Linked DNA regions of Homo sapiens: region 1 is reported to be linked to region 2. The links are microRNA targets in miRTarBase. Many come from high-throughput screens and were not tested one by one. Region 2 holds a microRNA gene; the other region holds the end of a gene's coding sequence.
Evidence for each region. Region 2 holds the annotated microRNA hsa-miR-5189-5p (UCUGGGCACAGGCGGAUGGACAGG, at 1,230-1,253, opposite strand). A microRNA usually pairs through its seed, bases 2 to 8, with sites in the 3' UTR of a target mRNA and lowers its output. Matches are read on the target gene's strand: a 7mer-m8 pairs with bases 2 to 8, a 7mer-A1 pairs with bases 2 to 7 and ends in A, and an 8mer does both.

Region 1 (4,390 bases), not on the chromosome of region 2:
ACCTAGAACTACTTAACTTTATATTATATTTTTATTGTATTGTATTGTATTGTACTGTATTTATTTTGAGACAGCATCTCGCTTTGTTGCCCAGGCTGGAGTGCAGTGGTGTGATCTTAGCTTACTGCAGCCTCCACCTCCTGGGTTCAAGCGATTTTCCTGCCTCAGCCTCCCGAGTAGCTGGGACTTAACAAACATGTGCTACCATGCCTGGCTAATTTTTATATTTTTTGTAGAGACAGGGTTTCACCATGTTAGCCAGGCTGGTCTTGAACTCCTGGCCTCAAGCGATCCACCCGCGTTGGCCTCCCAAAGTGCTGGGATTACAGGCGTTAGTCACCATGCCCGGCCTATTTATTTTATTTTTACCTATCTTTCCTACTAGAATATATAGTCTTCAGGAGCATGGATTACACAGATCACAATGTGAATGGTGCCCTCTGGAGTCGTGAAGTGTCATCCTGCTTCAACAGGGGCCTTGTCTCTTCTCTATACATTTATCCCCATCAGTCAGAACAGTACCCAGTGTTCACTTGGTCCTTGGTAAATATCTGACAATGAAAAAGTAGAAAGAGGACATTGTATCTGATCAATCCTTTGTGGGGTGGGGGTGTCCAGTGTACTCTGAACAGTGAGAACAAAAGGATAACAAGAAATAATTAATCATTTAACATTATCCTATTAAAATATTGTATAATTGCTTAGAGTACAATTTATATGAATTCATGTTCTTATATTCTTTTTACTCATAATCGCAATTTTAGGGATCAAAGGAAGCAGTTCCAGGTACTGGTAGAGAACAAGTTTTATGAATGGTTGATTAATACAGGACATCGCCAACAGCTGGACAGCCTTGTACCCCCTGCAGCAGGCTCCAAACAAGCAGCTGGATAAGGATCTTACATGCAGACACTGGTAGGCATTTATACCACTTAAAACAGATTCTTTTGGGGAAATCTTTCAAGCATAAAAAAAAGGCACAGAATATTATATACTAAACATGCCCAAATTTTTTCTACCGCTCCTACCAGCATACACGGACCTTTATGTACCCATATTTACCATATTTTATAGTGAGAAAACCAACCAAAATATTCAGATGGAGCCTATAGAATTTGGGGCCAATATAATGGCCAAATTTTGTCTTATTTTGCTTTTTGCCTGGGACAAGTTGTACTGTCCAAAGATACCACATTCCCCCATACATAGTTCTAAGTTTTATTCTCCTTTTCTAAACCTTTCCTCTTATCCATTCCCCTCACAAAAACCAATTTACAAATTAGCTGATCTTTGCTAATTACACATATTAGCAGTAATAAATTACCAGAATTAATCCAAATGAAGATTTGATTACTGAACACTAGAAGATCATGGATTAAATAGAAGAGAATATGCATACAAACAAATTTACTGGAAGTAAATTTAATCCAGACATATGGTATTCTTTTTTTTTTTTTTGAGACTGAGTCTCTGTCTCTCGCCCAGGCTGGAGTGCAGTGGCGCCATCTCAGCTCACTGCAGCTTCCGCCTCCTGGGTTCAAGTGATTCTCGCACCTCAGTCTCCGGAGTAGCTGGGAAAACAGGCATGCACCACCACAGCTGGCTAATTTTTGTATTTGTAGTAGAGGCTGGGTTTCACCATGTTGGCCAGGCTGGTCTCAAAACTCCTGACCTCAGGTGATCCACTTGCCTTGGCTTCCCAAAGTGATGGGAGTACAGGCATAAACCACTGCGCCCAGCCCCAAACGTATGGTATTCTTTTTTAATAGAGATTAGTATACTGTGTTAGTTTAAAGTTTTTTTTTTTTTTTTTTTTGAGGCAGAGTCTCCCTCTGTCACCTAGGCTGGAGTTGCAGTGGCACAATCTCAGTTCACTGCAAGCTCCGCTCCCCCGGTTCAAGCAATTCTCCTGCCTCAGCCTACCAAGTAGCTGAGATTACAGGCACGCACCACCGTGCCCAGCTAATTTTTGTATGTTTAGTAGAGACTTAGTTTCACCATGTTGGCTGGGCTGATCTTGAACTCCTAAACTCCTGAACATCGCCCACCTCGGCTTCCCAAAGTGTTGGGATTACAGACGTGAGCCACCGGAACTGGCCTAAAGTATTTTTAAATGCTAGCAATAGAAAACAGACAAAGGACAATAATAGATAGTTCACAGAAAAATACTTAGAGACACAAAAATGCTTACTTAAAATTAAAGAAATGTAAAATACTATTTTTTATTAGACTGGCAAAGAGCAAAAGCTGGTAGTACACAATACTGGCAAAACATTTCGTTTACCACTAGGAAAGTGTATATGTAACCTCTGTGGGGGGCAGTTTGACAAAATCAAAATTAAAAATACAAATTTTCTCTGACTCAGCGATTTCTTTTTTCTTTTTCTAGAGATGAGGTCTAATTCTCTTACAGGCTAAAGTGCAGTGGCACAATCATAGCTCACTGCAGCCTCCAACTCCTGCGCTCAAGCAATCCTGTCTCAGCTGGGACTGCAGGTGCATGCTATCACACCCAATTGATCTTTTTATTTTTCTTTAGAGACAGGGTCTCACTTTGTTGTCCAGGCTGGTCTTAAACTCCTGGCTTAAAGCGTTCCTCCTGCCTCGGCCTCCCAAAGTGCTGGGATTACAGGCATGAGCTACTGCACCTGCCCTGATTTAGCAGTTTCACTTATTATTAATAGAATTTATCTTACAGATAAACTCATGTATGTAGGGATCAATTAATTAATTAATTAATTTATTTATTTATTTTTGAGATGGAGTCTCACTCTGTCCCCCAAACTGGAGTGCAGTGGTGCGGTCTCGGCTCACTGCAACCGTCACTTCCCAGGTTCAAGTGATTCTCCTGTCTCAGCCTCCTGAGTAGCTGAGATTACAGGAACCGGCCACCGCACCCGGCTAATTTTTGTATTTTTAGTAGAGACGAGGTTTCACCATGATGGCCCAGGCTGGTCTTGAACTCCTGACCTCAGGTGATCTGCCCACCTTGGCCTCCCAAAGTGCTGGGATTACAGGCATGAGCGACTGCTTCTGGCCTATTTATTTAATTTTTAAATTGACAGATGAATTGTATATATTTATCATTTCCAGCATGATGTTTTGAAATATATATGCATGTGGAATGGCCAAATCAAGCTAGTTAACATTAGAACCTCACATAGTTGTCATTTTTGCAGTGAGAACACTTAAAATCTACTCTCTTTGTTTTTTTCAAGATCACACAGTATTGTTATTAACAACAGTCACCATGTTGTACATTAGATCTCTTCAATGTATTCCTCTTAGCTAACCGAAATTTTGTAACTGAAGATGTTTGATGTGGCATTGTTTAAAAAAACTGTGGACTAGAAACACCCCAAATGCAGTGTATTTATATGCTAATTATATGCCTAACAATCTTTGAAAGAATATAAAGAAATTATAAACAGTGTTTGTCTTTGAGGAATGAGATTGGGTGTCTAGGGTGGGAGAAAACTTCTTAAAAATTTTATTGAGATAAAATATTACCACATAACATTATGGGAAGTAAATTCACCTTTTTAAAGTAAAGAATTCAGTAGCTTTTAAGTATATTCAGAAGTTTGTGCAACTATCACCACTAAAAAATCTAGAACATTTTCATCACCTTCAAAATAAAGCTCGTACACATTGTAGGCCACTCCTTATTCCTCCAACCCCTACATTTCCTCTTCCCCTTAGTCCTTGGCACCACTAATCTACTTTGTCCATTTTGGACATTTTATGTAAATGGAATCATATAACATGTGGCTTCTTGTGTCTGGGTTCTTTCAGTTAGTGTAGTGTTTTCAAGATTCATCCATGTAGCCATGTATCAGTACTGCATTCTTTTTCATGGCCAGATAATATTCCATCGTGTGGATCTACCATTTTGTTTATCTGTTGATCAGTTGATGGACATTTGGCTTGTGTCTACTTTTCAGCTGTTGTGAGTAATGCTGCTGTGTACATTTGTGTACAAGTTTTTGTGTAGACATTTGTTTTTATTTCTCATGGATATATACCTAGAAGCGGAATTGTGAGGAATATATTTAACTTTTAAAGGAATTGCAGTTTTCCAAAGCTGTAAAAGTGTATTTTTTGCTTTAAATATTTACATTTCTTAAGGGTGTATTTTTTTTTAAAGAATTTAGCATGCCTGTAATCCCAGCACTTCGGGAGGCCGAGACGGGTGGATCACGAGGTCAGGAGATCAAGACCATCCTGGCTAATACAGTGAAACCCTGTCTCTACTAAAAAATACAAAAAATTAGCCGGGCGTGGTGGCAGGTGCCTGTAGTCCCAGCTACTCAGGAGGCTGAGGCAGGAGAATGGCGTGAACCTTGGAGGCGAAGCTTGCAGTGAGCCGAGAGCACCCCACTGCACTCCA
Region 2 (4,390 bases):
GGACAAGGACCGTGGCTCTCCACAGGCGATGCTCCTACACGGGAGGGGCCTTTGCCCAGGACAATGCTGGCTCTGGAGGCCCTGGCTTTTTCTCCGTTTCCTTTTTCCTTCTGCTTGCTTTGCCTCTGGGGACACAGCCAGGCACAGGGAGCAGATCCAGAAATCAGCTGGGGAGTATTTATGGAGCACCTACTGTATGCCCCAAGCTGTCCTGGGAGAGGACAGAGCTGCCTGCATGTGTGGAGACCCCTCTGCAGACTGGGAGGGCTGCGTGGGGAGATCCTCTGGGCTGGGCACGCACCTCTGACCCTCACCACGTGAGAGGCACTGCACCCCACGTTAGGGGGTGGGGCCCTGGCCAAGGTGATGTCTGGTTCTGGTCGGACGGCCCCTCCCTACTTCCTCTCCTTAGATCTCAGCCCAGACTCTTTCTCTCCTCGCCCCGCCACTATTTTCCACTTACACATTTTTGACAAACACCCACACCTGTGGCTGATTTTCAGGTGCCGTGGGAGCTGACAGGGCCTCCAGCCAGGTCTCAGGCCGGCGGAGCCTGCCTCATCCTGGTCTTGCCAGCAAGACCCACTGTGCAGTGTGGGTGGATGCAGAACACAGGTGCATGCCCCCTAAGGTGTCCTAAGCCCCCTGTAGACATGGTCTCCTGGCACATGAATTTCTGACAATGGGAAATCTGGAAGACCCCAGGTTTCCAGGCTATGCCACAGCCACAGACAGGAGGACCCCCAGAGAACCTGCCACCTCAGCCTCATGGTGTGGAAGGGGAAACTGAGGCCCAGGCCGGCAAGGGGCTTGCTGAAGAGCCCAGAAACCATCCTGGGAGGCAGACCTACTAGACCGCCTTCCGGTTTTACAGATGGGGAGGCTGAGGGTGGGCAAAGGGGTTGGGACTGTCATTCATTAAGATGGTGCCACGTCCCTGGCCCGGCCGGCACTTCAGAAGCTTGGCAGAATGAGGTTCCGGATGGAAGTCAGCGCGGGGAGAGGGTGGAGCGGTGGGGGGCAGCCTGCAGGAGGGTCTGGAGTGGGCCCAGACATGGGGGTGGGAGGCTGGCTGGCCCCAGGGCCGTCCCTGCCGGGTTGTGAAACTCGCTGTTCCCATCTGGGAGTGGCTGCTGGCTGCACTCCTCTCGGGAACTCCTGGGTCCTGGTCCCCAACTGAGGCCACGTGGGTCTGGGCTCTGACGGTTGGCAGGTCATCCAGAGGCCAGCCTGTCCATCCGCCTGTGCCCAGACAGCGAGGCCCCTAAAAGGCGGGCCCTTCCAGAGCCGGTGGTGGTGGTGGCAGAGGTCTCCCGTCCTGGGGCAGGGTCCAGGATGGGAACTACTCCCCCAGGTCAAGGGCAGCCCCTGGAGGAGGCCCTGCCCCCACACAGCAGCTCAGCCAATCCCTGGGCCTCACCCCTGCTCATTTGCATACCCCATTTCCATTGGCTGCCAACAGGCTGGTTAGGACAGTGGTGCCCTGGCCATGGGGGTGGGGCTCTGGGGGGCGGGGCCCTGGGGGTATCAGATTCTGGGTGACTGGTCCCAGCCCCAAGTCTAGGGTCAGAAAGCTGCATGGGGCTGGTGGGGGGCTTCAGTTACAGTGCAGGCTCTCCCCTTTCCTCGAAGGCTCCCTGACATCCATTCAGGGATGACTCTGAGTGGGAAAGATACTGGTCCAAGGTCGTACAGCCAAGAGGCCGGCACAGCTGGGACCTGGCCCCAAGTCCCAACCCCTCTCCAAGGCCGGCCTCTTTTCTCCTGTGGGGGCCTGTTGAGAGCGACTTCTTATTTTTGGCTGCCTTGTTTCAGGGAGGGCTATTTGGGGGCTTTCTTTGCAAAATGATGATGATGATGACTTTCAGAGCACCCCGAGTGCTCAGCTCTCCCTCTAGATCTGGTGGCTCTGTGCGCCGCAGGCAGTGGGCTCGCGGGTGCGTCGGGACGGTGGGCTCGCGGGTGCTTGAGGGGCGGTGGGCTCGCGGGTGCTTGAGGGGCGGTGGGCTCGCGGGTGCGTCAGGGCCTGTGGGCTCGCGGGTGGGTCAGGGGCAGTGGGCTCGCGGGTGCGTGAGGGGCGGTGGGCTCGCAGGTGCGTCAGCGGCCGGTGGGCTCGCGGGTGGGTCGGGGCGGTGGGCTCGCGGGGGCGTGAGGGGCGGTGGGCTCGCGGGTGTGTGAGGGGCGGTGGGGGGCTCGCGGGTGTGCGGGTTGAGAGTGTGTTCTCACTTTTGTTCCTGGCATTAGGGTGGGGTGAGATAAGGGGAAGGGGGGCCGCTCAGCTCGAGCAAGCAGATAGATAACGGCGATAGCACCTCCTCCACCGCACAGCACGCATCGCCCTTTTTTATCAAGTTCTCTTTTCTTCTTTTTCGTTGTAGGGTGGTAGAGTAGAAAACACCCCACCCCCACCTCCCAAAGCCATGGAACTAGGGGGTGGGGGCCTCCCCATCTCAGGTCCCAGCCACAAAGGGCACGGGTCAGCTTAGGGCCCGCTGTGCCCAACACGCCCAGCAGCCAGCCCAGAGCCCGTGACTGGAGGAGGGAGGGGATCCAAGGCAGCTGCGAGGCCCGGGGTCCGGAGGTCCCAGCATGACAGGAGCAGCTGCGCATGTGCCCTGCAAGGCAGGTCTCGCGGTCTACACCATCAGCTCCTTGAAAGGACTCTGAGAGGGCGACTGGCACCCCATTTTATAGGAAAAGGCAGCAAAGCCCAGAGAAGTGAAGTGTCACTGGGGCGGGTGCTGAGCTCCTTCCTCGAGAAGCCCTGGGTGGGCACCGCTGGGAGGGGTGGGGAGACCTCAGGGGGGTTGGCCATGGCCTGCAGGGCAGGCTTAGCGGTGTCGGCCCTATTTGACAGATGAGGAAACTGAGACCTGAGACTCTGGGATGTGTGTGAGAACCAGGGCCATGGGGACAGATGCTGTACCCCCTGCTTGTTTGCTGCGGCTCCTGGTCTGGGTGACTGTGGCAACTATGGGGGACTGACAAGGGGTAGACTCTTGGATCACAGGGACAAATGTTCTGGAGCCACTCTGGCCGCTGTGTGATGGGACGAGGCCCTAGGTGACATCACTGAGGTCATCGGCACACTGTAGCCGTTGGCGGAAAACCGTGCAGGAAGAATGCCAGTAGGATTCAGGGAGGGTGGGCTGCGGGCAGAGAGGGCTTTGGAGAGGTGGCCCCACCCCAGGGACCCTCGCCCCGGCTCGTGTCCCCCCATTAATACCACCGCCGTTTTGGGGTTCACTGAGCCCTGCCGCACAAGGGCCCCAGATGCTTTACCCACTTCTGCCCTAATTCCTCAAAGGCCAAGGAGGCTGGAACTGTGATCATGCCCATGATACAAGTGAGGAAACTGAGAGGCTGCCGGCCAGGGGGCAGGATTTAAACGCTGGTCACTGGAGCTGACATTTACCCCCCTCCCCCACATACACACCCCACTGCACTGGAAATAGCTGACTTCCTTTTAGAATATTGAAACAAAACCAAACCCAAAAGTTAGAAAGAAACCAACTTTCTCACCAAAGGAGCTTATTTTCTGGGGACAGATGAAATGAACCCAAGAAACAAGAATAGAGGCAGGCCAGCCTCCGCCCATCCCCTCCCACTGCCAGGATGGGCTGTGCGGCCCTCAGCCGTCCCCTGCCCTTTCTGTGCTTGGCCTTTCTCCCTGAAAGGTACGGGTGAGCCCCCTGGGAGGCTCGTGGGCTGCCCCCCACTGCAAACACCCCAGAACCTCCAGCCAGGATGGAGACTCTGACCTCGGCTAGACTCTAAGCCAGAAGCCAGGGTCCCTTCTGTTCTCTTCATGCTGTGTGATCTTGGGTGAGTTACTCAACCTCGCTGAGCCTTCAGTTCTCTGAGGAGAATGAGGTCATAGGCGCCCCTCCCAGGGCTGCAGAGTACTCCATGCCAGAACTGCCGGGGCTGGGTAACGGAGCTGTTGTCTAACCACGGCCGCCATCAGGATCACTACAACTGGGGGTCCCAGAACCACCCAGAAATGTCACCATCCACACCGCCCCAGGGATCCTGCCTTTGGGTTCCCAGAGGATCTCATTTCTCAAGAGTCACTCAAAATATAAAATCCAGGAAGGGGGAAATGGCAAGCTGGCCTGCACCCACTGGGAGCCCAGGCGGCTCCACAGGAAGCCTTTCTGCCAGCGAGGGAGCGGCCGGGCCACTGCCTCAAGGAGACATCGTAGCTGCGTGGCCTTGGTTTCCCCCGTGCACGGCGGGCCCCTTGGCACCCTCCACCCCATGGCTGCTTCACCTGTCCCTCCTCCACCCCTATGGCTGCTTCACCTGTCCCTCAGCAGGAGGATTAGCCGCACGCCGGGCTCTAATCGCCGCTAATCGCTCCATCAGCGCCGGATCTCGGATCAGCTGA

Region 1: the mRNA of TBCCD1 is a reported target of hsa-miR-5189-5p. The part of its 3' UTR that is shown has no 7-base or 8-base seed match.

The regions. Positions count from the first base shown.
Region 1 is chr3:186,547,654-186,552,043 of GRCh38, reverse strand. TBCCD1 (TBCC domain containing 1) reads left to right here. Exons shown (of 8, transcript NM_018138.5): 7 at 765-915. The coding sequence ends at 894. Among named protein-coding and RNA genes, the nearest start is that of CRYGS, 5.5 kb to the right of the region's middle.
Region 2 is chr16:88,465,806-88,470,195 of GRCh38, reverse strand. It overlaps MIR5189 (microRNA 5189), which reads right to left and starts at 1,278; the gene lies at 1,165-1,278. All of the region lies in intron 1 of ZFPM1 (zinc finger protein, FOG family member 1), which reads right to left.